Linked DNA regions of Homo sapiens: all the other regions are reported to be linked to region 1. Evidence: microRNA targets listed by miRTarBase, many of them from high-throughput screens and not tested one by one. Region 1 holds a microRNA gene; each other region holds the end of a gene's coding sequence.
Evidence for each region. The annotated mature microRNA hsa-miR-3121-3p reads UAAAUAGAGUAGGCAAAGGACA and lies in region 1 at 2,532-2,553, opposite strand. An mRNA with a match to its seed (bases 2 to 7 or 8) in the 3' UTR can be bound and repressed. Matches are read on the target gene's strand: a 7mer-m8 pairs with bases 2 to 8, a 7mer-A1 pairs with bases 2 to 7 and ends in A, and an 8mer does both.

Region 1 (5,074 bases):
CGGCTAAAGTGAATAACTCCAGCCTGATGGGTTTAGGATACACTCAGACCCTAAAACCAGGTATCAAATTGACACTGTCAGCTCTTCTGGATGGCAAGAACGTCAATGGTGGTGGCCACAAGCTTGGTTTAGGCCTGGAATTTCAAGCATAAATGAATACTGTACAATTGTTTAATTTTAAACTATTTTGCAGCATAGCTACCTTCAGAATTTACTGTATCGTTTAATGTTGTACGTCTGGAATGCAAGTATTGCTAAATATGTTAGACCTCCAGGTTAAAGATGATTCAGCTTTAAGATGTTACCCTTTCAGAGGTACAGAAGAAAACCATTTCCAAAAAAGGTCCTTTCAGTGGTAGACTTGGGGGTAACTTGGTGGCCCCTTTGAGATATCAGGTTTCTTTTTTATCTAGAAATGGCTGCAAGTGGAAGCTGATAATATGTAGGCACTTTGTAAATTCATATTGAGTAAATGAAAGAAATTGTGATTTCCTGAGAATTGAACCTTGTTTATCTAACCCTAATTGATGAGAAGCTCACTACTTGATGGTGTGTACAAACTCACCTGAATGGGATTTTTTTTAGACATATCTTCATGACCTGTTCCCACCCCAGTTCATCGTCACCTCTTTTACACCAAAACGTCTGCAGAGTGGTGTGGTCACGATTCTTTTGTGCCATTTTGGGGTGGAGAGGGTGGACGTGATAAAGCCAATAATTCAGGACTTATTCCTTCTTGCGTTGTGTTTTTTTGCCCTTGCACCAGAGTATGAAATAGCTTCCAGGAGCTCCACCTATAAGCTTAGAAGTGTCTGTATGATTGTAATCACATGGTGACAACACTCAGAATCTAAATTGGACTTCTGTTGTATTCTCACCACTCAATTTGTTTTTTAGCAGTTTAATGGGTACATTTTAGAGTCTTCCATTTTGTGTGGAATTAGATCCTCCCCTTCAAATGCTGTAATTAACATCACTTTAAAAAAACCTGAATAAAATATTGAAACCTCAAAAAACAAAAACAAAAACAAAACTACCTCAAAATAATAAAGGCCATATATGAAAAGGCCACAGTTAACAACATACTCAGTGGTGAAAAACTGAAAGCTTTCCTTCTAAGATCAGGAACAAGGCAAGGATATCTATTCTCATCACTTCTATTCAAGATGGTATCCAGGCCAATGTTAATGCTATCATATCTCCTTAAAGGATATAAAATCAAGCTATAACCCCATCAGCTTGGGTACATGTTCTCAAGACCTTCTGAGGCTGTGTCATGGGTCATGGTCTTCACATTTGGTGCAGAATAAATCTCTTCAAATACTTTGCAGTTTGGCTTTTTTCCCTCGACATCTTCATCTGTATCCTTTGTAACATCCTTTATAATAAACTGGCAAATGTGTTTCCCTGAGTTCTGTAAGCCACTCCAGAACTCAGTTGAACCCAAAGAGGGGGTCATGGGAACCACAACTTGAAGCCAGTTGGTAAGAAATTCTGGAGACCGGGGCTTGTGACTGGTCAAGGGGTGGGAGGCAGTCCTGGGGACTGAGTCCTCAACCTGTGGAATCTGACACTATCTCTAGGCACCTAGTGTCAGAACTGATTAGGAGGATACCCAGTTGGTGTCTGCTGCAGAACTGCTCACATAATGTTGGGGAGAAATCCCCACGTATTTGGTCACAGAAGTCTTCTGTTGTTGTAGTGGTATGAGAGCAGAGGAAAAACACAGTTTGAAAGTTTTTCCTAAAATGGCATCCAAATTGGAAAGGAAGAGGTAAAGTTATCTGTTCACAGACAACAAGATTTTATATGTAAAAAAATCCTAAAGATTCCACCCAATCTGTTATTCAGCAAAGTTGCAGGATACAAAATCGTCACACAAAAATCAGGTTAGGTCTGACAGAGACAGACAATAAATGAATAAGTTTTCCAATATTAAAACCTAAGGAGTATTATGAAGAAAAAAAACAGGTCCAGGAACAAGGTTATAATTTGGAATAAGATGGTTAGGGAAAGCCTTCTAGAGAAGGCCCTTTGAATAAAGACAAAGGAAGTGAAGAAGTGAGTCTTGCAGGTATCTGGAGTAGATTGTTCCAGCCATAGGAAAAAGCCAGTGCAAAGGCCCTATGATGAGGGTATGCACAGAATGTTAGAGTAGGGGTCCCCAACCCCTGGGCTGCAGGCCAGTAGCAATACATGGCCTGTCAGGAACCTGGCCGCACAGCAGGAGATGAGTGGCGGTTGAGCAAGCATTACCACCTGAGCTCCACCTCCTGTGAGATCAGCAATAGCATTAGAGTCTCACAGGACTGTGAAGACTATTGTGAACTGCACATGTGAGGGGTCTAGGTTACGCACTCCTTATGAGAATCTAATGCCTGATGATCTGAAGTCAAATGGTTTAATCCTGAAACCATCCCCCTCCAACACTGGCCCCCTAATCCCTGCTGCAGAAAAATGGTCTTCCACTAAACCAGTCCCTGGTGCCAAAAAGGGTGGGGACTGCTGTGTTAGAGAACTTAAAATGTTTCTGTCCTTTGCCTACTCTATTTAAGGTACAGGGTGTCTTAAATAGAATAGGCAAAGGACATAACCATTTAAGAAGCAATAAGACAAGGTTGTTCATGAGACAATCATAGCTTCTATTGGCGCCATTCATTGACTCTCTTAAAGTGAAATAGACAATTGGGAAGAGATAGCTATGGTCCACTTGGTAATTATTTGCTGTGAAATAAAGACTACTAATTAAGAGTTACGTGGTAGTTCAAAAAAAATAAGTATAGTTCTTTTTTCTTTTTTATTTAGACTTCTTTTTAAAGCAAGTTTAGGTTTACAGAAAAATGAACAAAAAATAGGGTTATCTCATACCTCTCACATGTATACAACTCTCCCACCCACTGCCCCCATTACTAACATCTTGCATTGAGTGGCACATTTGTTACAGCTGATGAGCCTATATTAATACACTATTATTAATGAAAGTCCATAGTTTACATTAGGGTTCACTCTTGTATTGAACATTCTATGGGTTTGACAAACATATAATGACATGTACCCACCACTGCGGTACCATTCAGAATAGTTTCACTGCCCTAAAAATCCCGTACTCTACCTATTCACCCTTCCCTCCCTCCCCACTCTCCTCCATACTCTGAACCCACGGCAACTAGTGATCTTTTCACTGCTTTGTTTTACTCTTTCCAGAATGTCAAATGATTAGACTCATACAGTATGCAGCCTTTTCAGATTGGCTTCTTTCACTTAGCATTATGCATTTAAGGTTCCTCCATGTCTTTTCATGGTCTAATAGCTCATTTCTTTTTAAAAATTTTAAATTATTGTAAACATAAAATTTACCATTTTAACCATTTTTGGTATTTAACTCAGTAGTGTTAACTATATGCTCCTTCCCCTGGCCCAAAACACAAGATTTTTCTTGACTCTTTACCGTAAATGGGATTCTGGGAGATAAAACCTACCAAAGTGGAAGGCCCTACTAAGACTGGGGAGGGGCCGGGTGTGGGGGCTCACGCCTGTAATCCCAGCACTGGGGGAGGCCGAGGCGGGTGGATCACAAGGTCAGGAGATCGAGACCATCCTGGCTAACATGGTGAAACCCCGTCTCTACTAAAAATAAAACAACAACAAAATTAGCTGGGCATGGTGGTGGGCGCCTGTAGTCCCAGTTACTCAGGAGGCTGAGGCAGGAGAATGGTGGAACTCAGGAGGCAGAACTTGCAGTGAGCCAAGATTGCGCTACTGCACTCCAGCCTGGGCGACACAGCGAGACTCCGTCTCAAAAAAAAAAAAAATACTGGGGAGGAGTTTTTGACTCCCTAGTCCACACTCAGCCTCAAGCAATTCATCCATTACCATTGAAGTGTTTCTACCAGTTTATGGCCCAAGCATCTTCTGTTATCTTGGTTATGATTCTCTGTATTCACCTGTCTCTCCAGTTTTGGGGATGGCAGTTTGAACTGGTACCTCAATCTCTGATGGATCTAGAACAGTCTTTGATTTTCAGTTTGGTCAGATTACTGTTATTGTTAAGGAGAGGAGTGATAACTTGCAGGTTCTTCACATGTTGAGGCTGAAACTGGAAGTTCAGTGATCTTTTAAAGAGATTTTAAAATTTAAAAAAAGTCTTTAAATTTACCCATATATTTAGCACTTCCAGGACTCTTCATTCCTTTATGGAGGTCCAAATTTCCATCTTATATAATTTTCCTTTCATGTGAAGTTCCTTTAAAATTTACTATAGTTCAGTTCAGTTGGCAATGAATTACCTGCTTTTGTTTATTTGGAAAAAGTTTTTATTTATTTATTTTTATTTTTTAGATGAAGTCTCACTCTGTGGCCCAGGCTGGAGTGCAGTGGTGCAATCTCAGCTCACTACAACCTCTGCCTCCTGGGTTCAAGTGATTCTCCTGCTTCAGTCTCCAGAGTAGCTGGGATTACAGATGCCCACCATGACACCCGACTAATTTTTGCATTTTTAGTAGAGATGGGGTTGCAATGTGTTGTTCAGCCTGGTCTCGAACTCCTGACCTCAAGTGATCTGCCCATCTCAGCCTCCCAAAGTATTGGGATTACAGGCATGAGCCACCAGATCCAGCCTTGAAAAGTCTTTATTTCACGTTTACTTCTTTTTGTATTGACATGAGATTCACATAAAATTAACCAGTTTAACATGTACAATTGAATGACATTTAATACATTCACAATATTGTGCAACCAACTGCATCTAGTTCCACAACATATTTGTTATTCCCCCCAAAAAGCCTTGAACCCACTAAGCAGTCACTCCCCATTCCCCTCTCCCCCAAACCTTTAGCCTTGAACCCACCAAGCAGTCACTCCCCATTCCCCTCTCCCCCAAACCTTTAGCCTTGAACCCACTAAGCAGTCACTCCCCATTCCCCTCTCCCCCAAAACCTTGGCAACACCAATCTGCTTTCTGTCTCTATGGATTTAACCATTCTGGATATTTCATATAAATTGAATCATACACTATGTAATCTTTCATGTCTGGCCTCTCACTTGGTTTAATGTTTTCAAGGCTCATCTATATTAT
Region 2 (5,074 bases), not on the chromosome of region 1:
AATACCTTTACCCGTAAATGCCTACAGCCCAAAGGTTGGAGAAGTAGAATTGTGCCCTTTTTCCATTCATTCACCCATTAATTACTCATTTGGAAAGCATTTAATTAATGAGCTTTAGGGTATACTTTGCAAGGGACTTCAAAGAACAAAAGAAAAAATAAAGGGTAGCCCCCAGTGTGTTGGTTTTTAGCAAATGTAACTAGTTCTTCCTCTGTTCTTACCTCTTCAATGTTTGAATTAGTTTACGAACTTGGATATATGGTATGTTAACACCATCAGAGGGCTCATTGGTTTTCAAATTCAGTTTGTGTGTGTGTTTCTTTCTTAGGCTCTTGGAATGACAGCATCCCAGGACCGAGCAGTGGTCAAAAAGAAACTCAAGGAAATGAAGATGTCTCTAGAGAAGGCTCGGAAGGCCCAAGAGAAAATGGAAAAACAAAGAGAAAAGCTAAGGAGAAAGGAGCAAGAGCAAATGCAGAGGAAGTCCAAAAAGACAGAAAAGATGACGTCAACTACAGCCGAGGGTGCTGGTGAGCAGTAACACATACCCTCTTACAGATGATGGAGATGCTCCAAGAGAAGTCCCCACCTCTTCCTGCCCTGCTCTCCTCCAGAGGATGAAAAAGAAACTAAATGATAAGGGTAATGCGGCTCTAGGCCGGCTGAGGAACTGTGTGTTGAATAACTGCATTTTCTGCAATAGAATGCACTCTTAATTTTAACTACTAAAATAATCCCAAGCCACCTTTGGTTCATTAACAAACCAGAGATTTCATTTAAGTAGCTGTGTTTTGCTCTTCTCTAACTTACCAACATCTTGTGTTGTGTTGGGTGTGTTTTGTCACTTGGAGAACTAGTGTGACCCCACCCAAGAGCATGACACACCCTGGTGTTGTTAATGGAGCGCCGTGAATTTTCAGTGTGGGATCCTGAAATGGCAATTGCACATGTCTGCATGGCAGAGAGCACCCTGCCATGAGATCTGAGACCAGTACTTAACTTCTAGGACTGCAACACCTACTCCAATGTGTGGGAAAGATTTGCTCTTAATTCTCAGTCTGGACAGTGAGACCACCCCGCTGTGGAAACATGGGTGCTCTGCTCTGTAGTTACCTACTAAGGGAAAAGGCAAGCAAGTCATTCTGCTTGCTAGGCATCAAAAAGAAAGAAAATAAATTATAGCTATTTGTTAACCACTGAAAAAAGCAAAAGCCTTAAGAATGTGGATGTGGGTATTACCTTGGGGTTCTGAGGGTAATATTTATCCTCTAGATACGGCTGAACAAGAAAGAAAAAAATCAGACATTAATGCAGCCATGGGATATTGGGATCTGTTGACCTTGCTACTGCTGTGTGTTCAGCATTTCAGCAACACTGGCAAACACAACACAGTTCCTCTTCCCCCTACCTAACCCAAGAAATTGAACAGGAAATTGATTTTTAAGGAAACCACCATTTTCAGGTTTCCTCTCCTGGGGAACATTCTGGCTGGTCTTCAGCCTGCCTATGTCACAATCAGGAACTCATCACATATTTTCTACTCAAGATTTCCCAGGTGGGCTCAGTTAGTATTTTAACAAATGTACTTTTAAGAAAAATAGAAATACCAGTTAGAGGAAACTGTCAGTTAACATTTTAGAGAGATTTTGAATGGTTTTTCCGAACCATTCCTTTCCATACTTCAAAGATTCTCAATTTTACAGAAAAAGTTTGTTTAAGGCAGTGCATAGGTATACTTTAGTAGTGGAGGAACTTATACTAATTTTAAGCCAGCATTAAGGATTTCCATGTTTCACCAAACTAAGTCAAGTGCAGGAGACTGGGGCAGAAGAAGGAGAAAATAAACTCGTTTTGAGAAATTTCATGTGATGAGGGTTTTTTGTTTTTTATGCTCATGTATCTGGTTCTCTTTGCTGCGTTGACTCTAAAAATGAGGTTATCCACTTTCCAAAGGACAAGTTTCAGAATAAGACTTGAGGCCACATGAATTCTTGGACAGTATTTTACTTCTTTTACTTTATGGGAATCTCTGCTCTGTTCCCAGCATCTCGTATCTTCCACTAGAAGTATTCCATATTTAGAGCCTCGGCAAGGCTTTTGAGTGTAACAGATTAAGGGAACTCCCTTGTAGCCCCATCTTGTATTTTAATAACAGTGTGATTTTTTTTTATCTGAAAATCTGAATTCAGAAATTATCTAAACTGGACATTTTTAATTCTGTTTTACCCCCAAGGCCTGTTTTCTTTTCATTGCCAGAGTATTGTCGGTTATGCGTCAGCTCTTTTGTCATTAGGTACAGACCCTTCATTCAATCCTCAGAAACGTTGACATGAAGTAACATTGTGTTTTACAGTTATCAAAGTCACCATTATGTTTTTCTGTCTGTCTTCATTAGGGGTATGATAATGAAACTGCCGTATTGGATACTCTATTAATGTCTTGAGATGTCTGGTGCTTTGTTATTTTTTCACATCATGAGAAATAAGAAGCCACTATTAATGAGTGATACAATTTGGCAAAACTTTTCAAATACTAAAACACTAAATTAGTAAAAATCTGGTAATATTAGTGCTTGCTATTGTAAATTTTTGCCATTTTTGCTTATCTTTGGGAAAAAAGTGACCTGGATCACACTGGAAGTTTCACTGTATTCAAGAGTAGAAATAGAAGGATGATTATCTTAAGTTATGTTTACACTTTGGTAATATTTGAAAATGGATGTATATACTGGAAATGTCTGTAAGTGTCTTGTTTTTGCACCTAATTTATGATCTATTATATTGCATTTTCTTAAATATCTTAGAAGTATTTTTCTTTATAACTTTGTATATTGAATGTTTAGATAAATGTCCAACTGACAATGTTATAAATCAAATTCTTATTCCTAAAATCATTTAGTATTATAAGTATTTTGATTTTTTAAGTTAAATTATAGTAATTTTAGGCCGAAGTGAGTTATTTTAACATTACCACTTAAAACGGATGAAATTGTAAAAGTCATTTGGTTTGATTGCCCCACAAAGCATAAGATGTAAACTGATTAAGGGTATGAAAGCAAAGTGAAAGACCTCAGATCTTGTGCACATTTTGTTTTCCTATTATTTCTTTTATTGACTGTAGTGCATGATACCTAATCAAGGCTCCAATGTCTTGCACAATTCCTACTTTAATGCTAGTGGTTTTCAGTGTCCTTACAATTTAACACAGAATTGTTATTTCATCAACCTTAAAAACTGCAGTTTTTATTATCAGAAAATGAACAAAAAGGGAATATCTGGTTGCTATGAACTGATTCCCTAAAGGAGAGCTCAGTATGATTCTAACAATAGCCAAAAGTGTTTTGGGGTATAGGTTATGCTTTGTTGGGAGGGAATGTGTGGTGAGGAGGCCAAGCTGCAGACAGAAAGCATTGTATGAGCTGTATCTGGGTCAGGGTTTCCCATTAAAGGATGTTAGTTTTATAACAGATTACTTTGTTTAAGACCATCTCCCTTCAAGTAACTCACAGTTTATGTAATACTAATCTCATTCTTTTTTTACCTGAATCAGGAATTTTCTGCAGAATGTTAAGTTAGGGAAGAAACCTCATTTCATCCATTCTAACACTCCTGATGAAGTCCCCCTTTAGTTTCATGACAATAAAGCTGTTCTGTGGCTATCATCCTTTAGCTGGGATTGACAATTGATTTCACACCCTCAACATCACAAGCTTTTTTTAACCCACAGCAGTTCATGATTGCAGTATGATAGGTACTAAAGCCAAACTCAGCTTTCAACTGGCACAAAATGGGACTGTCACCTTTTGCTCCATTGTTGTTGGAAACAAAGTGGCAAGAGGGAAAATGAGGAACCAGATTTACCTTTGCCACTATCTGTGACCCTGTAATCATCACTAGCCTGAAATCTTAAAATATCCCAGTCCCAAGCTACAAAAATGGTCACAGGTGGTTTGATCTAGCACCTCGGCCGTTAGAGTTTGTGCTGAAGACAAATTTGTCTGGGTTCATTGTGCACCAGAATTAGCATGTGCTTGAAAATTGCATTTTATAAAAGGGAAATGAAAATTTGCATTTATATAGATACTCTGATTCATGTTTAAGTGTTAAAGGTTATGCAGACTAAACTTCAAGAGGAGATCCAGTGTTTAACAATAGTGTTCTAGAGGATTCTAAAGGAAGCTGCCCCAGCAGCCCTGAGAGAACCATCTATACTTTGGATATGTTGTAGCCCCATCATTACACTGAGATATTTCCATTTGAGTAACTAAAGGTACTCCTGACAGAGCTGGAGATGAGGGGCATTTTGGTGGGCAGTGGTCACTAGGGTTCACGTCACCTACTTAATGCAAAGACCTTAGTGGTCTCAGAATGAAAAGGTAAAATGGAAGAGAAAAGCACAGTCCTTTCCTGTCTTTTCAAATTTACTTTTTATTAAGGATGTACCTGTGCACTATTCTAAAGCTAAGCATTTAAGGATAAAGTCCAGAAATAAAATGTCCATATTTTCTTTTCTTTTCTTTTTTTTTTTTTTTTTCTGTCATCTGTCACCCAGACTGGACTGCAGTGGTGCCATCATGTCTTACTGCAGCCTCAAACTCCTGGGCTCAAGTGGTCCTCCTGCTTCAGCTTCCCAAGTAGCTGGGACTACAGGCATGTGCCACCACCCCCAGCCAAAACATCCATATTTTCTATTAGAATGGTTTACATTATGATGGGGGATGGGGAGCTGGGGGAGGGCTGTACATTCCCAAAAGAAAGTAGTGTTATAGGAAATCCAAATGCGCTTCAGTGATTCACTCCTGAAAAGCAGCCTGGGTATGTTGGCAGATTTTGTTTGCATTTGTCTTGCGTATTTAAAGTCTCAGGAAATCTAGTCTTGGTCCAAAACACTGGAGAAAAAAATAACACCAGACAAAACACATTTGAGTAACTTGAAGTAGCAGCATAGAATAGGCCCAACTAAGAAGTTGGAGGGGCAAAGAGAAAGCCGACAGAATCAGCTTCTCCTGGAAAGTGAAAGCATCAAGTTCTATTTATGGTAGACAGAGGGTCCTTATTTGCTTGTCCGTGGTGTC
Region 3 (5,074 bases), not on the chromosome of region 1:
GTCGCCCAGCCTGGAGTGCAGTGGTGCGATCTTAGCTCACTGTAACCTCCGCCTCCCGGGTTCAATCGATTCTCCTGCCTCAGCCTCCCCAGTAGCTGGGATTACAGGCACATGCCACCATGCTTGGCTAATTTTTGTATTTTTAGTAGAGACGGGGTTTCACCATGTTGGCCAGGCTGGAACTGCCAACATTTTCTTCATCCTAATCATTAATCACTTCTTCACCCACAAAATGTCCTTTGCTAGAACATGAGTTCCAAGTGGAGACAGATCACAGAAAGGGGAGGAAAACTCAGAAATCCTTTGTTATGAGAACTATCGAATTCTCCTCTTGCCTTTGTTCCCCTCAGGTAAAGAAAAAGATTGCTATTTTTCCATCAATATCATACCACAAATATCCACCTATATTTATGTTGCCCTCAAGAGTTGTAATTCTATTATCATCCTACTCAAGAAAAAAGGTAGTGAGAAACAACTGGAAGTTACTGGTATTTTGTTATTACTAAGTACCAGGGCATTTCTTGGGCATTAGGGATGATTTATTTATTATTTGTGTCCTTGTCCACTGTAAAAAAGGGAAGCTTAAAAACACAAGTGTGTGTTCAGGTTCCCAGCCTGAATACAAATTGTATTCAATTTCCGAGTGAAATGTGTCCAGACAGCAGGAGAGATCTACTTATCTGTGAGACTGAAGAGCCTCCTTGGAACGAACTAATCCTGAAAGAAGAACTACTTGTGAAGGGCAAACAGTTTAGTTCAAGAAAGCAAGGCTATGCAATACCACAGCAAACTTCATTCAATGAAGACTGAGCTCCAGCCATGTCTTAAGAGCGGGAAGAAAAAGCAGCAAACAGGCTCTATCTCCACAGGCTCTGGGGACAGTGACGGCTGCAGTGGCTCCTTCAGGATGCTCAACCCTGGGCTCTGGAACACCAAGCACAGGCCTCAGCTCTTCCATGATGAATACCTTTTAAAGGCATCAGCTGCAGCATCTCTGTTGCATACAAATTCACTAAGTACAAAAAAACTCCTAGACTTTTGGGCCCATTGCTTATTACATAAAATTGTTTCCAGCAGTAGGGTTTAAGACAAAACACAAGTGAAATAAAATGTACAAGTTTGTTCCATAGAAACACTGAAAACACGGTTATGTCCTTCTACAATTCAGTAAAACAAACACTGCCACAAACACCCTCAGGTTCACAGTTTAGATTTCATTCATTCAATAATTATTTTCTAAGTACTTTCATTACTGGGGATGCAGTAATGAATAATAAGGTCCCTGTTTTCTTGGAGCCTCTGTTCCAGCAGTGGGGCAGGGGAGACAGACAGCAAACAAAATAAATCAATATACCACGTTAGTAGTCACATGGTTACTGGGTAGGGAAAGGAAAGCTTCTGCACACCTAAACCCCTTAAGAGCAATTTGAGGCTGCTGCAAATATCACGGCCTCTTTTAGGGGAAGATAAAAACTCTAAGTTTTATATATATATATATAAATAGAGATGGGGTCTGGCCATGTTACCCAGGTTGGTTGATCTTGAACTCCTGGCCTGAAGTGATCCTCCTGTCTTGGCCTCCCAAAAGTGCTGAGATTATAGGCATGAGCCACTGTGCCTAGCCCTAACTTATATTTTTAAAAGTAACTTTTTTATAAGTTGCAAATTTCTAGTCAGACTCTTAAAAGTTCACAATTCTAGGGAGCTGTTCTAATTTTTAGTTACAAGGTATATGAATAAGTACTTTAAGTCCATACTAAAGGAATAAGACCTACATCAGGTGGGTACATGTGCAGGTACATATATGAATATATGTTTACAGGCTCATGTCAGAAGTGACACAGGTACATATTATATATAATGTTAATCTGTATTATATATTAATATAAAATTATTTCTGGCTCTAATGATACAAATCTTTCATATAAATTCTTAGATTATATCTGGTCTCTCTAAGAACTATCAATATGCTAATTTTCAGGCGGTTAATTGGTACCCCCAAGTGCATGGTATTTCTAAGTAAACTTCTGTTCAGAAAAAATACTTGTCACTTACAGCTAAGCATATACTGATAAAGCAACATGTAGAACATAATGCAGAGTGGAATGCAACTGCCTTTTCATGTCTAGAAGACAAGGTAAAAACGAGGTGTTTTTTTGTTGTTGTTTTCTGCTGCTGGTGCTCAGCGCTTGTTCACTGAAAACCACAGATGGTCTTAAAGCGTGAAGCCTTGTGCTCCAACTTCCTAGAGACCTAACAATTTCACTGGTGTCTTTTAATGTTAATGTCCGTATTTTCCCTTCTCCACATCCTACAAGGGCATTGCTCCTTTTTAGGCTATCCAGTCTGAAGTACGTTTTCCCAGTGGTGAACACAGGGCCAGAAGTCCTGGACAGCATGATTGAGTTGTGGTAGTCTGAAAAGCAATGGTGGCAGGCAGTCATGATATGCTCCCATCGCCTCTTCAAAGACGCAAACGTCCAAAGTGACAAGGCTTTTCCAAAGGTCAGGCCGGCCGTGCACGGTGGCTCACACCTGTAATCCCAGAACTTTGGGAGGCCGAAGCGGGTGGAGCATGAGGTCAGGAGTCCAAGACCAGCCTGACCAACATGGTGAAACCCCATCTCTACTAAAAATACAAATACAAAAATTAGTGGGGTGTGGTGGTGGGCACCTGTTATCCCAGCTACTCTGGAGGCTGCGGCAGAGAATTGCTTGAACCCGGGAGGCGAGGTTGCAGTGAGCCGAGATCAAGCCACTGCACTCCAGCCTGGGCAACAGAATGAGACTGTCTCAAAAAAAAAAAAAAACAGCCTCTGGTCAGAAAGATGAAAATGTGTCACCATGGGGTTCTCCGGCAGAGAGTGGGTTCTCAGATGAGATTCCTGGGTCTCCTCAATGACCCACCATGCTCTGCTTGAAGCACTCCAGAAGCCAGGCGGCAGGTCTGGGGACATGCACGGTGTGGCCTGCAGACACGTGTATGTGCCAGGCAGGATGTGCCGAGCATCACAGCCCTCCCGAGGGCAGCTGCCTTCAACCTTTTCTTCCACCAGGATCATCTGTTTTTTCAGCAGAAATGACTACTTAAACCAGACTGGCCTTAGAAATGGCCGCTCCCCAGCACGTTCTAACTTTGTCTCTTTTCTTTCACTGGTCCCTGTCGGAACGGTGCTGTGAGAACACTGCCCTAGAGGCCACCAGAATTCCCAGACTTCCTGCCTATTAAGGATATCCATGGGTAATCCCCAGTAGCAAGTAATTTAAAACTAAGTTGTAGGTGCCTTTGGAAAGCATTATGTAATTTCTTAAATTGGGTTTTTCTTCCTAGTTACATTTTTCCCCCTCAGTTCAATGATTTGTATTTTAACGCCAAGCAGGCTGAGCAGAAGGGGTATCTGAATACTGCTAGACGAGAAGCCAGCCTGGCATTCAAAGTGACAGAGACCACCCATAACAAGAGTGGGTTGATCACTGAGAGCTGATTAGGTGCTCAGGCTTCCAGTGGAACATTCTTCTTCCTCTTGCACCAAAGCCAGCGACCTTTTTCCTAGGGAAGCATTCTTCTTCTATGTCAGTCTCCTATCATTGCCATTTTCTGGTCCCAAGACTTCTTGCATACACTATCTTCTGGCATGGCATGTATACTAAAACTTGTACACACTCTCAGATCTTAAAATACAACAATTATTTCTCTAATTAGATAGTTACCTATTTTCTATGACTTCAGTGATTGCAAATTCCAGCAGAAGCTACTGTTCTAATAAGTTTTGAATCAGAGGTCTTAATGCATAGTAAAAGATTGCCTGGCTTTAATCCTAAACCATGTAAGGGTAGATACTGTGATGTGGAAGCCAATGTTCTCGGGATGAATGAACAGAAGTCCCTCAACATTTTTAGGGATCATCTTTCTGGCATTTGCAGCTGTTTTCTAGGGTAAGCTACTTTCCAGAAAACCAAGTGATAACGTGTTCAGACTTTCCTAAATAAATTTCCTAAGGGCCTACCCTCAGTGTTAAAAGAAAAGACCAAATGTTTGAAATATCTCCCGAGGAAGAATGAAACAGAATGTTAGGAATGGCGAACAGACAGGTGTGGCACATGCAGTAGCCAGCAGCATCAGTGATGGACAGGAACACAGACGTCATCCTTAGCCACGGTGCGCAGCTAGCACGGCTGCACTTAGGCTCACAGGAGGAAGACGGGTGGCCACTGTTTTGGTCTGACTCATCTCATCCAATGCAAGTCCGGTGACAGGCTTTTTCATGATTTTACACATGGAAAAGAATGTAGGAAACGTTTGTCTCAACTCTTTTAATTTCTTTTTTTAAAGAGTCTCACGCTGTCACCAGGCTGGAGTGCAGTGGCGTGATCTCGGCTCACTGCAACCTCCACCTCCTGTTTTCAAGCGATTCTCCTGCCTCAGCCTCCTGAGTAGCTAAGACAACAGGCGCGCGCCACCACACCCGGCTAATTTTTGTATTTTTAGTAGAGATGGGGTTTCACCACGTTGGCCAGGCTGGTCTCGATCTCTTGACCTCATGATCTGCCTGCCTCAGCCTCCCAAAGTGCTGGGATTACAGGTGTGAGCCACCGTGCCCGGGCCTGTAATTTCATTTTTAAATAGTTAAGAGCTTGCCCGTATTTTTAGGACCTATGATCTGAAGATGTTTTTTCTTTCCCTAAACAGGGAAACGTCCTCTCTGTAGTTACTGAGAGGAAGGTGAGGACCTCAGGCTCCCAGTGTAACTCCTGCTGAAAAACCTTATACTTGACACAGTTCATTTCTGGTCATACAAAGTCCTGCTGTAGTTCTTCACTTGTTTTACTTTCGCTTTCATCTTCATTAGAATAATTTCCTGAATCTTGGCTAGTTTGGGAACTGTATTTTTTATGATCTTCATCAGTTTGATTAGTTTCTTCTACTGTAGCAATTGTGCTTATATTTTCAATTATGAAACATTTTTCGATTTGTTCCTCAGAAGTTGAAAGCAGAAGATTCTTCAATGGCTGTTCAGAGAAATACTAATTTAAAAAAAGGGAAAGAGTAGAAATCAATTATTTAAAATAATAA
Region 4 (5,074 bases), not on the chromosome of region 1:
CATGCCTATAGTCACCCCTACTCAGGAGGCTGAGGCAGGAGGATTGCTTGGGCCTGGGAGTCTGAGGCAGTGAGCTTGATCAAACCACTGCACTCCAGCCTGGGCAACTGAGCAAAACCCTGTCTCTAAAAAAATAAATAAATAAATAAAAGATTAAAATGTCTAAAATATTAATAGTGGTTATCTCTGAAAGTAGTATTGCAGGTGAATCTTTTTCTTCTACACTGAATAAATATTGTAAATAAGTAAAATGCATTTTTTATGCTCTAAAATTGTATCTTAATACTCAAAACTACTTTCCTAATGTTGGATAAATGTACAAAAACCTACTAAATTCAGCTGCCTGTGTGGCCACAGTCATTTTATTGTTTTTCCAGAATGTTCCAAAATAGCTCTGGAACAAGACCAGTGGGACCACCAGATAGCTATCTAGCCTCACCCTTCTTCCCATGCACATGAAGACCAAGCCTCCAGCCTGGCTTTGGCAGAAACCTCTGTGAGACTCAGGATAACAAGGCCTTCTCCTTCTCAGCTGGGGAAAGGAGGGGCCTTATGTCATAGCGCTCTCTCTCTCTCTCTCTCTCTCTCTCTCTCTGTCTCTCTCTCTCTCTCTCTCTCTGAGTCAGTTCAGAACATCCTCTAAAAAGGTGCCTTGAGCAGCAGTTGCCAAGACAAAAGATCCCACCTCAAGGGTGGAAACTCTATTTGCAGTTTTGTAGACACAGGTGTTCTTCCAGGCGACTTAAGACCTACAGTGTGGGGCTGTATTTGGCCAGGAATAGCTCAGAAGGCCTTCCCCCCCGAAACCAGCTCTTGAAGCTTCAGTGTATATTTTAACTATATTTGGCAATTCAAACCAAAGAGGTCAGTGGCTTAGCTCAGGAGAGGAAAAAGGTTGATTTATAATCCCTTCTTCAAACCAAGACCAAGAATTTAAAACTCAGTTCATTTATTTATTTTGCACTCATTGAGCTTACTGCTTGAAGCAGCTCTCCTTCCCTATTCTACCAGCCCTCATGTAAATCTTTCAGAACCACAGGTGTGAATCACCTATACAAGCTATCCCTGTTTTAGAGGACATTTGGGGACATTTGGCTGGAGAATCTAAACGTTAAAATTATCCCACTTTACTCCATATGCCTTTAGAGGATCAAAATAGCCTGTAGCATTTGGGTACAAATCCAGGCTCCACCGCTTATTATTCACTGTGTAACCTTGGCTGAGTTACTTTATGTCTCTGAGGTTGTTTCCTTATCAATAAACAGATAACACCTACTTCACAAGGCTGTTGTAAGAATTAAATGAGATAAGGTGTATAAAGTGGCAAAGAGAATATCTGACACCAAGCAAGTGCTAAAAAAGGAATCTGTTTCCATTCCTCCCCATCACTCCCCTTCACCCTTGGCTGTTCAGCCAAGGTGTTGGCTTTTCAAGAAATTGCCTGATACCCCGTGTTTGATTACAAATGTATGGTATCATTCCCACAGCAAGCAACAGTAGCTAAAGATAAAAGCTGTGACTACTCCTCAGCTGTGGACAGGTCGAATCAGCTCACAAATGACTCATCACTGTTGATAAACAATGTGTTCTTGGCATCAATAGTCCCTATCCTGATAAGCTTCAGCACCTCAAAGAGAAGAGCCCGGGGTTTGATGGTGACCTTTGGTTAATCCTGAACTCATACCAAACTGGTCTTAGGAGGGTCTCTGTCTCCTCGCACATGTCTCCAGTCACAGGATTCTCAGCGGGAAGGACTCCAGCTGAGCAGCTGCCTCTTTTGTCTTAGGGCTGAACCATCTCCTTCACTTGCCTTGGATTCCCTCAAGTCATAAGACTTCCTCAGCACAAGGCTAGACGCCTGTTCCCTGCTCACAACCGCCCGAAGCTTGTGCCCAACCTGCCTTTGGCAGCTTTGTTTGCTGGCTGACGCTGTGCCAAGGTGAGGTTTGGCTGGAGTGCTTTGTGGCTACAGGACAACCTTGGCTCAAGGAAAGGAGTAATCTTGCGCCACTGTCTGCGAGGCTTAAGTGTTTGCTGCTCTCTGCAGTTTCTGTAGCCCCTTCAGACCACCCAGAACCCACTCACTGGCACAGAAATTCCATGACAGGAATCTTGAGTCACTCTTTCATTCATACATGCCTGGTACCTTCTCAGTGCCTGGCACAGAGTTCCCACAAAGTGAATCTTTTTCTGAAAGGCCCTTGAGGACAAGAATGGTCTGTAGCTGCATTTCTAACCTCCTCAATTCTGGCACACCTCACACAATTATTAAGATCAAACAGGACAATAAACTATATGAGATTGGCATTGTCAACAGCCAGGTGCCCAAACTGAGGTTTTGTATGGTCTTAAGGAAATTCTATGTACTCGAGTTTACTTTCTTCTAAATTGAAACTGCTTTGGAATGAGGTATCTCTGGACCCCAGAGTAGGGCCCCTCTCTCTCAGTGGGTATGCAGTCCTCTTCTGCAAGAAACTAAACATCCTAGCCCCTCGGAGGGGACCCTGTAATGTGCAAAAGCCCCAGAAGGCCGTAGGCTACCCTGGAAACATTTCCATTCTCCAAACTCACCTTCAGGTTTTCTTCACCAGGGAGGTTTCTGAGATCACCTACAAGCACTGACATTAAGGCCAGGGAAGCTTTTTGGAAGGGACAAGTAGCTGGTCTCCATCTTGGGTCTTCAGGATATTGGATGAGACAAACAGGGCACCCTGAAATCAAAATCAGGGGTCCCTCTCTTTACTCTTCCCTTATGTCCTAACTGTTCCTATGTCCCCTGCCTTTCTAGTCACTCAAGGGGGGCTTAGTGTCCGTCTATCGCCGGAACTGGGGTCAACCTTCTCAGAAGATAAGGCATATAAAGAAAGCAAGGAGGAAGGAAGGAGAGAGAGAGAGGAAGGCTGGAGAAAAGTGAAGAAAAAAATGAAAAAAGGCTTGGGAAGGAGGAAGGAAGAGGTGAGCGGCTAGGGGAGGCGGAACAATGAAGGTCTCAGGCCGTCGGAGGCTCACGGTTCCGCCGGCACGTCCGTCCTGCCCGCCTCCAGCCGGCAGCTGCACGCAGCGCAGCGTGTGGGCGCTGAGTCACTGTCCCAGAACAGGGAGCCGCGGTGCAGGTCTGGGGGGTGTAGGAGGACGGCCCTGGTTGGCATCTGCAAACTGTTTCTTTCTCTCTTTTTTTTTTTCTTTCTTTCCTCTTTCATTAAGGCTGTGTGCTGACTCCCACGTAGGAGAACTTATTAAACCGCACGTACTGCTTGGCGGCGCTGGGCCTGTCTCAGCTGCCTGCAGGGGGCGCTACAGCCTCGCCCATGAGCCAGCGGCCCGCGGGCGCTCAGGCCCGGGCAGACCCGGGGTTACTAGGGGTTACTGGGTTTTCCGGAGGTGTCCCCACGCATTGCTAGGGCGGCTTGGAACTTTAACAACCGCGGCAGGCAGGGGGAACGCCTCTCTTAGAAGGCCTCAGAGACCACCCCAACTCTTCGAAGCTCGCTTTCGCGCCGGGTTCTGTGAGCAACCCTATAAATCTAGGACTCCGTTGCGCAACCCGAGAGTCCAGGCTCGCCAACCCACTAGGGCTCCCCCTACCCACCCCCCGCCGGCCGCCACGCCAGGCGGTGACCTCGGGCGTCTCCGCGAAGCCCTGATTCGCACCCAGGACACGTGTTCTGCGCGCCCCACACAGAGAACAGAGCTCGTGACAGCTCAGCCCGCTCAGAGTAGGGCCAGCACCTGCACGCGCCGCTGTCCCACCTTCCCAAGCCCGGCGGCGGGACCCCAAGGCTCCTGGGCGGGCCGGGACCAGGGCACCCTCCCTTCCTAGACGTGAGAGCCGAGCCGAGAGAATGAATCAGCATTGAGACAGTTTATTGGTTTGCTGTTCGCATATCACCCATTTTATGTAAATAGATTATACAGAGACTCGGTGTTTCCTTCTTCCACACAGGAGGTAATCAGTCTTTCTCTTTCATGCACACAAACACACTCACATTCCACGCGGCGAACAACTTTACACCTCGCTGAGACATTCACGTCTTAAAATAGGGGAGGACAATATAATTGCTTTTAAAATGCCCTTAATACAATATATAACGTACAAAAATATCTCTATATTTGAAGTTACAAAAAAAATCTTGACAGCAACAAACTTAAATATTGATAGTTACCTCTGTATGTACAACACGCATTGCACTTTTCCTCTTTAGGTTTTGGAAAGTTCAAGTAATAGTGAGGCTTGCGCCCTGGTGGGGTGACACGCCGTGAGAAATCAGTTTGTGGGCGAGCACGGCTGTGGCTCAGACCCCTGCTCCGGGGGTCTCAGCATTCATTTCTCAGTTTCTCCTCTCCTTAAGCCTGGCAAACACTCGGATTCTTCTGCACCCCGCCCCCTGGGGCACTTGCACCTGAGCAAGGCTAAGGAAGCGAAGCCCCCAGAAGGAGGGGCCCTTGCAAAGCCAGAGCTCGCCGCCGGACGGTGCCTCCCGGACTCAGGGTCTCCGCAGGGCTGTCAGAGCCCGGTCCCCACACCGCTCGGGAAGTCCTTCGTCCCGGGAGGCACCAGCGGGATGCTTGCGCGACTATTCCTTGTACCATGGGCGCCTAAATCCTAAAGAAAGTGGGGAGCACTTCCACTCGGGGGGGCTGGAGCCCCGTGTGCTTGTGGCTTAGAAGACACCAGAGTCCGACCCGGGCCGGCCTCGGGCAGGGAGCGCCGGCGCCGGCGGCCGTAGCCCTGGGGGCTGATCTTGCTCCTGGGGGCGACGTTGTCCTTGTCCTTATCTGTGAACTGGTAGATCTGGTGTGCCAGCTTCTGCACCGTGCACGTCCCGAAGCGGCAGCCAAAGCTCCGGAGGCCCTGGAAGTTGTTCATGCTCTGGCGGTAGCGCTTGACTCGGATGCGGGCGGCATCCGGACTGCTGCGGGCGGGGGGAGGGGGAAGAAAGGCAACTTGAGACCCCATCAAGCAGAGCTTTGGCCCCAACACCGGGAACGGGAGCCATTCTAGAGCCAGAGGGAGCTGGAAACTGCTCGCGCCATCTGAGCTGCGGTCCAGCCCCGACGATCCCCCGGGCCAGGG
Region 5 (5,074 bases), not on the chromosome of region 1:
TGGAATGAGGTTGGTAAATTAGTCACCAGCCAGTTTCATCTTCTATAAACTTTCCATTCACATTATTGATCCATATTTCTATTGGGCTGTTTGTTTTTTCTATTGGTTTATAAGAGTTTGTTGTATATTCTACACCACCATACCTGGCTAATGTTTATATATTTTTGTAGAGACAAGGTCTCACAATGTTACCCAGGCTGGTCTCAAACTGCTGGGCTCAAGCAATGCTCCCGCCTCAGCCTCCCAAATTGCCAGGATTACAGGCATAAGCCATCGTGCCCAGCAAGAATCCTGTATTTTTGATGGTCTTGTCAAATCTGTGAGGGTGTTGGGAGGACAATGATGTGATATATATATATTTAAAGGTATATGTTTTTATTTTTAAAGGTGTATATATACACCTTTAAAAACCTCAGTGGACATTGTAAATAAAGTGGAAACTAGAATTCTGTGAACATTTAGAATGTTGAAGGCCAGGCACGTGAGCCAAGAAATTGTTTGCCTGCAGATTTTTCTTTCTTTCATTGTCTGCCAGGAGGGTTACATAAGCCTGTCTTCAGTACCACCCAAATCCCCTAGTAAAAGGAACACAGACAAATAATGAAAAGTCAAAAGCTCCAAGTGGAAGTTCAATTGTCTTTATTTTTCTTATACAGATTCAGAGAAGTAAAAACCAGTACCAAACTCCAGGTAAAATGGTTTGATCTGATCGATTTGGCTGCATACTTTCGGTACGTATAACATTCTAAACTTAAAATAGAAATTTTTATATTACAAAACGTAGAAGTAAAATTTTAAAAAGTTAAAGTACTAGCACATATATGTGTTAGGAAAATGGTCTCTGTCAATTGCCCATTTTCCCAATTAAATTAACCTACGATTTCCTTTTTTTAACAGCTTATTTTTTTCATAAAAGTTGTACTTTGAGAAGTTACTTTCTAATTACGTCATGAGAACACAACTTGTAATTAGCAACACTTCTGTCAGTCTAGATCACTTCTTCTGCAGAGAGCTTTTCAACCAAGTTGGCATCAACCAGCACAATAAAGTTTTCACTGTTTTACCTGTTTCCTGTATATGGTGTAATCAGTGAAAGAAATGGCATTTCACATCCTAAATAATACGGTGAAACACTGTCTAAAAATTACTTAGATTTAACAGAATTGCAATTAGGTTTTGACAATGTATTTACTTCAAGACAATGTATTTTATCAGGAAAAAATATCTTGAAAGAAAGATCTCTGAAATTATTTTTCATTTGATACGCCTTTTCTGTGACAAAATTTTGGGGTGAAATGATGATGTTTACTGATTGATTTAGTACTAAAAAGACTAGTACTAAGAAGACTAAAGACAGTTATCTTATAATAAGAAATATAGTATAAATAGCACCTTATCAAGAATTCTGCAGGGGTTTTAACACTTACAATAATAGGAAATAGCCATTAAAAAGTTGCTCTAACTTTAGATTTCTAACTTTAGTGTTCTTTAACAAAGGCCATATTTTGTGGCCTTAAAAACAAAAAATTATATCTGGCTTTATCTATTAGTAAACACAAAGGGTCCATATTTTATTCTGAAAAAATATTTATTATATTCATTCATAAATGTTCTAACTAATTTAACTAAAAAAATCTTCTAGTATTTTCTGATGCCACAAGCTTACTAGAAAATTACTTCTAAAAATTGGTAATATAAATCATCAATGATTTACCTACTTTAAAAAAGAGGGGTATCTGTTTCTCTTACATTTAATAACCTGAAAATGAGTCTATAAAAATATTTTTTAAAAATACAGTAACACTGCTGAGTTTTGTTAGGTCCCTTGTTTTTTTAATTTTTTATTTATTTATTTATTTTTAGCAAGAATGTACAATTCTTTTTGCAATTTTTTGCTAACAAAAGACAAAAAGAAATAGTGCTCCCTTCAATTTAGTAGCAATAAAATCATCTATCTTCATCTCTCTCAGAGGGCTTAGGGAGAGTGAAAGGAATTAGAGGAACATAAACCATGGGTCCTTCAGGTAAAATAAGTCATTTCATAGTGATGGAGGCAACAGCAGGCTACGCTCTTGTCTGCCTGTACGCTCAGCATCAGCATGCCCTGCCCCTCCTCCTCCCACATAAGGTGCACCAAAGCCTTCTTTTCTTCTACAACAGAGTCTTCCGGTATAAAGGTGGCAACAGAAAATTGTTGCTTTGTCCTTTTGGGGCATCTCTTGCATCTCCTGCTTGTTTTGCTTTTGGGGTACTATAACTTGTCTCTTTCCATTTCACAACTAGTATCCTTTCCACGATATTCCATAACTTTGCTACTTCATCTCTGACCTTTTCACTTGCCTTCTTTCCAACATGATCCAATGTACTCTGTACATGTATATTCCGGTAGATCAAAAGGAATCTTATTTAAGATCCCCAACAAATAAGTCCCCCATGGAAATTGAAAGTATCCTCTCAGAGACTCAAATTATTAAAGTCTTTCAAAAAAGATTAAATTCATAGATTATAAATAATATTAGTTCAAAATATTAAACAGTTGAGGACTTCATTGGCAATGCAGGCAGACTGCATGCCAGTTGAACATGATGCTCTCTCAGTCCTTAAAAGCTAATTAAAAATGGTTTTGGTTACATAAGAGGTATTGAATACATATTTCATGCCTTTTTATACCAACTGTAGCAAACAGGATTAGGATAATATACTTAGGAATCAATTTTACTGAATTCAGAAACATTTATCTCCACCATACACCCTCAAAGGGCATTTTTTTTTACATGTCAGTCAGAGATCTGCTTCATCCTTCAGTTTCATAGATAGAATTATTTTAAACACTTGAAATCTAGGAAGCAAACCTGACAAGGCTTCAGAATTTAAAAAGCAACAGCTCACTGTGTGTGGTGTGCTATCAGGTTGAAATCTATGTTGTCCTGATGTTTTCAGAGTTATTTCAAAAGACAAAAATACAGTTGCCACTGATTTATCAAAAACATTTGGCTGCCTTTTGTCATCAGCTACAAAATTACAGTGCTTTATAAAATAAACATCAAGGCCGGGTGCGGTGGCTCACGCCAGTAATCCCAGCACTTTGGGAGGCCGAGATGGGTGGATCACCTGAGATCAGGAGTTTGAGAACAGCCTGACCATTATGGTGAAACCCCGTCTCTACTCAAAATACAAAAAATTAGCCGGACGTGGTGGCAGGTGCCTGTAATCCCAGCTACTCGGGAGGCTAAGGCAGGAGAATCGCTTGAACCCAGAAGGCAGAGGTTGCAGTGAGCCGAGATTGTGCCATTGCATTCCAGCCTGGACAACAAGAGCAAAACTCGATCTCAAAAACAAACAAACAACATCAAGAAAAAAAAAAACCATCAGATTCTAAGCTGCAATTTTTTAAATCCCCAGTTGTAATATTTCAAAAACTTTTGTTTGAATAAAATGCTCATAATTAGTACCAAACTGGTCTCTTTCACAAGATCTGTAGTGTAAGACCTGTGACTAATGCTGCTGCTGCTACTTTCCCGCTGGAGGGACTAAGTTGTCTAGATGCTCTGCAGTAAAATAACGAAAGATAAGCTACAATAGGACTGTGTGCCTTTATAAATACAGACTAATAAGAGCCATCAGAGCCAGCATGGATTCAAAATTACATTGTATTCCATACAGTAGAATTTTACTATCCATACAATGATTTTTAAAGCTCAAGTTAAATAGTTTTTAAAGCATTTGGTACTACTGTCATCAATACAGTTTTTGAAACTGTAAATCAGGTCGAATTTTGTGCACATTTCCTGGACCAAGATGCCCTCAGAAGTAACTGCCTGTGGTCAGCTTTTTATGGTTTAAAATCAATTGGTGTATAAATTTCAATTAACACCCATAAAGCTTAGCCATGGGGCAGCAGAGAAGAAAGAGAAAAGTATTCTGCATAATCAATCCTGCAGACACAATTCTGTATAATCTGTCACAAGAACGCAGGCTTGCAGAAAATGAAAATAGAATATTTATTTATGTTTAACTTAAGTTACTCTCAATCAAAACCAGGCAATGATTAAACTGGCAACATAAAAAGGAGGGAGCACGAGTCATGGAGGCGGGAAGTGGTGCACCTGCAGACTTGCTCTGCTCCATCACTTTTTCCAAGAGGCCCAGGAAATGTAAGGTCATGGCTACATCCAAGTTACAATGGTAGTGATTACAGCCAGGTTAGAAAGGGCTCACTTTTGTTCAGAGCAGACTCTACATCATTGAAGAGGGGGATCAGGTCTTCAGATTCCAAAGTTCCTAAGTCAACGTTTGTTCCTGGAAGACAGTCAAGGAAATCAGGGAAACGGGTCTGTTGGGGATTGATGTTCATGGGTGTTTGTCCTGCGTTTTCTCCTATAACAAAATGAAAAGAAACCATTTTAATTCCTTCTTTTAGGCTCTTGAAGGAGGAACAGTTCAAGTATTTACATAACCCTCACCTTCATGTCTTCAACTACCACATTATTGACCCTTACTCATAAGAGGTACAGAGATGTGGAAGAAATCGAAAATTATTTCTGGATAGGTGTGGTCCAGAATGGAAAAGGCCAAGGAGATAAGAAAGGAGCATGTGAAAGGCACTGTGGATCTGATCTATGATCTGTGCCTTCCCATGACAAAGGTGTGAAGAACTGTTTTACAAAAGAGTAGAGAGGCCTTGTCTGTAATAAACAGCTTATTACAGAACTATAATCTACAGGTTTCATTGTAAGCTTAGGTTTACCCATACCATCCTTCTTTATGTTCAAAGAGAATGGTGTGAAGCTTCTTTTAACCAGGCTATTAAAAAGTTGTCTTCATTGATGACTTTAGGCATCATTTATAAAGGCAGTTCTGCAGACGTTTTCCCTCTTTCTGTAATACCTACACCCTACAACTATCTGCCTTTCTCACAAGCATATGAGCACAGTGCATATGAGCATGTTAAGGCTTTAAGTCTTAGAGTAAAGAAATCTTTTGTTTTCTTTAAGACACTATTTCCTAAACCCATTTAATCACCTAAACCTATTTTGGCAGTATGTGTATTCAAATAAAACTGAAGTTCTACAGA
Region 6 (5,074 bases), not on the chromosome of region 1:
CGTGAACCCGGGAGGTGGAGCTTGCAGTGAGCCGAGATCGCGCCACTGCCCTCCAGCCTGGGCGACAGAGCGAGACTCCGTCTCAAAAAAAAAAAAAAAAAAAAAAATTCTGAATTAATACCGCTGTCCCCAGCACGGGGTTAGATCTCTGTTGGACTCTCACTGGGCCCATTTGGGGCTGGCACCAACAGTTGCTGGTTTTACTTGGAGGTGGGGGATGGTCATTGAGGTAGGTCCTCGCAGAGACCCCTCAGAGAGAAGAGAATTCTGGAGAGAAGGAAAGAAGCGCTAGCTATGAAGGGTGGGCGGGGCTCCAGGCTAGGTAATTAGCAAGGGATGCAGAGGCACCCGGGAACCCAGGAACCAGTAACCAGTAACCAGGGGAGCTATCACCACCCCTGGGTTGAAGGGCGAGGGGAGTACGTGGTGTAACTCAGTGCAGCTGGGAGGAGGCACAGGCCAGGTGTGAGCATCGCAGAGGTGCAGGCAGGGTTAGGGACGCTGAGGCACCCAGGAACCAGCGAGGGGCAGTTCCCAGGCTAAGGCTGAAGGGGCGAGACAGGGAGCTGTGTTACCTCGAAAGCTGGAATCCTGGTGAGCAGCCCACGGAGGGAGGCAACTCCTGCCAGCAACGGGCACAGCGGCTGGGATGCCAGGGAAGACACCCCCTACTTCTTCCAGCGGGGAGCCTGCATTCTCCAGCTTCACCCAGTGGGCAGAGGAGCCCAGCTGCTGCGGGGCAGAGCAGGGAGGAAGGCTGAGAGTGGCCCCCGGCTACATCTTCCCCCAACCCTTGGAGCAATGAACACCTGTGGTGAGCCAGGCCCTACGCCGGTGGAGAAGGCAACATGGAGCAGGCTGAAGCGTCTGGCTCGCGCATGCACACGTCTATACCACTAGCTGGTCCTCTGGCCTGAGGATGGGAGCTCAGGCAGCCAAGGGCTCTTTGGACTGTTCATTTGATGTCCTTGGTGAGGCCTCTCACCCCCGCAGTCAAGAGCCCTCCTGTCCTTTTTCCATAGCGCCTGCTCTCCGTGTGACCTGAGGAAGGCGCCGCTGAGTGACTGACACTATTTTTTTTTTTTTTTTTTTGAGATGAAGTCTCACTCTGTCACCCAAGCTGGAGTGTAATGGCGAGATCTCGGGTCACTGCAACCTCCGCCTCCCAGGTTCAAGTGATTCTCATGTCTCAGCCTCCTCAGTAGCTGGGATTACAGGTGTGGGCCACTATACCCGGCTAATTTTTGTATTTTTAGTAGAGATAGGGTTTTACTACATTGGCCAGGCTGGTCTCGAACTCCTGACCTCAGGTGATGTACCCGCCTCGGGCTCCCAAAGTGCTGGGGTTACAGGCATGAGCCACCGCACCCAGCCTTCTCACCTGTCTTAAAAAGACCTGGCAGAGGCCTCTGGAAGGAGGCCACCAGGGCATAGAGAGAGGTGGGGCAGGTAGCAGAGGGAGCTGGATGGTGTGGGGACGGTGGGGGCTGGCAGGGGGCAACTCCAGACACAGAGTCTCTGGAGAGCTGGTTTCGGGCCGGGCCCATGGTGGAGAGGCAGAGGACTGGCTCGTGGACATCCTGGATTTCTGTCAGCATGTGGAGGCAGGACATGCCTGGGCTGAGGACAAGGATACCCCTGCTGAGCTGGGGGACCCTGAAGGGTGACTGGTTTAGGAAGAGGGGTGAAGATAAAGCATTTTTTCTTTACTTTTTTTTTTTTGAGACGGAGTCCTGCTCTGTCGCCAGGCTAGAGTGCAGAGGCGCAATCTCGGCTTGCTGCAACCTCTGCCTCCCGGGTTTAAGCGATTCTCCTGCCTCAGCCTCCCGAATAGCTGGGACTACAGGCACACGCCACCACGCCCAGCTAATTTTTGTATTTTTAGTAGAGACAGGGTTTCACCATGTTGGCCAGGATGGTCTCGATCTCTTGACCTTGTGATCCACCCGCCTCGGCCTCCCAAAGTATTGGGATTACAGGAGTGAGCCACCGTGCCTGGCCAAGATAAAGCATTTATTTTTGGACTTGTCAAGATTGCCTCTTGGAGACATCTAGGGGGAGGAGGCAGCTGAAGTGTGGGTCTAGGAACCTGGCATTGACCAGCAGCACAGCATCACCTGGAAACTCGTCAGGAATGCAGATTCCCAGGCACCACCTAGCGCTATGGCGTCAGTATCTGCGTTTTCACAAGACCCCCTAGGTGGATGGAAGGCACATTCCTTGGAGTAGCTCTGGGCTACAGCTTTCGTAAGGCCCTGCTGAACAGCAGCACTGACCTCAGTCTATGACACGGAGTCTCAGCTGGGGAGCGAACTATCCCCCCACGGGACACGTGGCAACATCTGGAGACACTCTGGTTGTCATAAATGGGGAAGGGGTGCTACTGCTGGGTAGAAGCCAAGGATGCTGTTCAATGTCTGGCAATGAACACAACAGCCCCCCTGCAACGAAGACAGCTCCGGCCCCAGTGGCCAACAGCAGCCAGGATGCTGAGCCCTGGTCCTCAGGAAGTGCGCACAGAAGGTGGCGAGGGCATCCCGGCACTGTCTTGAGCCTCAGATTTCCCGCCTGGGCTTCGCCCCCTCCTTGGACCTTCTCCCGCTGGGCGCCGAGAAACCACACAAAGGCCAGACATTGATGAGTCACTTACAGTTTATTTTTGCCTGAAAGTATTTCACATCTCTTTGTACACAGCTACGTGACAGTAGTATTAACCATCAGGAAAAGCAACAGTGCGAGGGGAAAGGTGGCATGTCTTGTTTCTTCTTTTTTTTTTTTCCTTTTTTATTTTTTTTATTTTTATTTATTTTTTTATTTTTATTTTTTTTGCTTCTGCTTCTTCCCGCACCAGAGTGCTGTGAAGTATGGGACCGGAGGGGGGAAAGAAAAGAAAACCAAACAACTAAAAACAACAACAAAAAACAAAACACAAAACAGAACACACTCACACACACACGAAATAAAACCTGGCACGGAAAATGAATTAAGACTGGAACCCAGTTTCTTTTTTTTTTCCTTTTTTAAAAAAATGAGGGCATAGTGGGGGGGTAATAAAGTCTACCTAGCAAAGTATAAAACGACAAAAGCATGGTTTCCATTGAATAAGATTAAATATATATAAAACAAGTACACTGACTGTGGGGTAGGTTTGGAGGTGCCGGAGGAGGGAAGTATTTGTGCTAAACCAACAGAAAAAAGGGCTGGGGGGAGAGGGGGACCCCAAATAAACCATCAACGGGCTGTTCTGTACAGTGAGGGCTTATTAAGAAAAAGCCGACTGTTTATAAAAGAAACGGAGGTTGGTTTGTCTTCGGAGCAGGTGGGGACAGAAGGAGTGTCTTCGTTGCAGTGGTCACATGTGGGGGGTGGCGGGGGTGGGGTGGGGAGGGCAGTCGGACTGGCGGAGGCGACACATCTCTCTTTTCCCAAGAGACCATGCAGAGAGGCGGGCATGCATGGGGCCACGTGAAGCACACGATGGCAGGGGGAGCCCAGGGGTGACAGAGTCTCCGTTGGGGACAGGGGACAGCAAAGGCTGACAGGGACAGGAGCTCCCTGGGGGTGGGGAACAGCTCTTTTACCGGGGTGGACTGGAGAGGGCGGGTTAGCAGCCTCCCATTCAAGTCTAAAAGGTGCCGAGAGAAAGAGCTTGGGCCTTAGTGGAGCAAGGGGATCTTAATCCCTCCTCCTCCAGCCTGAGCCCCACCTCGTGAGGGAGTTGGAGACATTTGGAAATCAGAAACGCACAGTGGTGGGTGGGGGAGTGGGCAGACAGACAGACAGACGAGAGAGCATTAGCATAGAGAATCCATTACGAAAAAGCAATTAATTTTTCCAAGGAGGTTCTTTTTTTTTTTCTTCTTTTTGTTGTCTGTTTGTTTCCTTTAAAAAAATAACAATAATACTACCACTAACCCGACAGCTGACTGGTTTATACAGTACTACACGCCAGGTGGGGGCGGGAGGGCGGTGGGGTCGGGCGGGGGGGACGGTCAAAGACTTCATAAATAAGAGGCGGGTCCCAGACCCGCAATTTGTCAACATGTCTTAAATAGGTGCATTATTTAAATCTTATGTACAACAAGAATCACTTTGCATAGCAATGGTGAGGACACAGGACGGGTGCAGTGATGTGACTGGGTCTTCTTGTCCCAAGGGCGGGGGGCGAGTTCGCAGCTCAGCTCGGAGCCTCTAGGAAGAAAGCATCCTTCGTCCGGCCCGCAATGGTGGCATCGGAGTTGACTTTTCCCACACGACGGCATCAAACACAAAGGCAAAGAAAATCCACAAAGGGTCCCCCACCCCCCAGCCCACCCCCAAACCCCTCCCCGACCCGCTGATGCTCCTCTTGTTGCTACAAAGTCCACTTTAGATCAGGTCAAAGGTTCCAATTACGAAGCTAAAAGAATTCGGCGGGGGCTGGGCGTGCTTGTGGGCCCCCTCCCCACCCCCTCCCCCCTCCGCCCCCAGAAAGACTCCCCATCTATCTCACAGCCAGGGCACCAGGGTGGGACCCCAGGACCGGCTGCTCTGCGGCTGTTAGTCAAGAGTTATTTTGTCGCGGTTGCAAACGTCTTCCTGCCTTGAGCTGGGAGCTTCACCAGGCTTCGGTGTAGCGGACGTCCACTTCCTTCAAATTGGGAAGCTTGGCCTGGGGGTGGCAATAAGAGTCCTTGTCACGTGTAGGCCATTCCCTTGCAGAAGCTGCCAGTGCCTGGCTCCACCCGCATTGCCGGCTGGGGGTCTCTGCCACCCTCTCCCCACCTTGGTGCTGTGGGCTACCTGGGCTCTTGGAGGGGTGGGTGGCCTTAGGCAGAGAACAGAGCAGGTGGGATGTGCCCTGGCCCCGGAGAAACCAGGCAGCGGGGTTCCCATGCCCCCGCCTCAGATGGCCTTTGGTCTCTGTCTTCGCAGGTGGAAGCACTGGGGTTTGAATCCAGGCCCTGCCACTTGCTGCTGCGTGACCGTGGGCAGATAACCCAGCCTCTAGGGGCCTCAGTTTCTTCCTCTGTGGGCCCATCTGACTCTAGTCCCTGGCTCAAAGGATGGTGCTAGGGGTTAAATACCAAATGTA

Region 2: the mRNA of PPP1R9A is a reported target of hsa-miR-3121-3p. Seed matches in the 3' UTR shown: 8mer at 5,028-5,035.
Region 3: the mRNA of IFNAR1 is a reported target of hsa-miR-3121-3p. Seed matches in the 3' UTR shown: 7mer-A1 at 4,621-4,627 and 8mer at 1,498-1,505.
Region 4: miRTarBase lists ADM as a target of hsa-miR-3121-3p. Seed matches in the 3' UTR shown: 8mer at 3,900-3,907.
Region 5: the mRNA of WWTR1 is a reported target of hsa-miR-3121-3p. Seed matches in the 3' UTR shown: 7mer-m8 at 3,991-3,997, 7mer-A1 at 3,705-3,711, 7mer-A1 at 1,383-1,389 and 7mer-m8 at 755-761.
Region 6: miRTarBase lists CMIP as a target of hsa-miR-3121-3p. Seed matches in the 3' UTR shown: 7mer-A1 at 4,049-4,055.

Annotation. Positions count from the first base shown.
Region 1 is chr1:180,435,792-180,440,865 of GRCh38, forward strand. It overlaps MIR3121 (microRNA 3121), which reads right to left and starts at 2,599; the gene lies at 2,523-2,599. The region is part of intron 3 of ACBD6 (acyl-CoA binding domain containing 6); the gene reads right to left. It also overlaps the pseudogene VDAC1P4.
Region 2 is chr7:95,289,763-95,294,836 of GRCh38, forward strand. It overlaps PPP1R9A (protein phosphatase 1 regulatory subunit 9A), which reads left to right. Exons shown (of 20, transcript NM_001166160.2): 20 at 329-5,074. The coding sequence ends at 541. Among named protein-coding and RNA genes, the nearest start is that of PON1, 32 kb to the right of the region's middle.
Region 3 is chr21:33,355,267-33,360,340 of GRCh38, reverse strand. It overlaps IFNAR1 (interferon alpha and beta receptor subunit 1), which reads right to left. Exons shown (of 11, transcript NM_000629.3): 11 at 477-5,025. The coding sequence ends at 4,792. Among named protein-coding and RNA genes, the nearest start is that of IFNAR1, 33 kb to the right of the region's middle.
Region 4 is chr11:10,306,171-10,311,244 of GRCh38, reverse strand. It overlaps ADM (adrenomedullin), which reads right to left. Exons shown (of 4, transcript NM_001124.3): 4 at 3,848-4,913. The coding sequence ends at 4,604. It overlaps CAND1.11 (a long non-coding RNA gene), which reads right to left and starts at 2,932. Exons shown (of 4, transcript NR_103765.1): 1 at 2,572-2,932. RefSeq lists an enhancer at 3,062-3,331 and silencers at 3,832-3,931, 4,269-4,563.
Region 5 is chr3:149,516,613-149,521,686 of GRCh38, forward strand. WWTR1 (WW domain containing transcription regulator 1) reads right to left here. Exons shown (of 7, transcript NM_015472.6): 7 at 623-4,377. The coding sequence ends at 4,193. Among named protein-coding and RNA genes, the nearest start is that of TM4SF4, 44 kb to the left of the region's middle.
Region 6 is chr16:81,709,323-81,714,396 of GRCh38, reverse strand. CMIP (c-Maf inducing protein) reads right to left here. Exons shown (of 21, transcript NM_198390.3): 21 at 2,635-4,651. The coding sequence ends at 4,598. Among named protein-coding and RNA genes, the nearest start is that of PLCG2, 67 kb to the left of the region's middle. RefSeq lists enhancers at 131-811, 812-1,493, 2,176-2,858.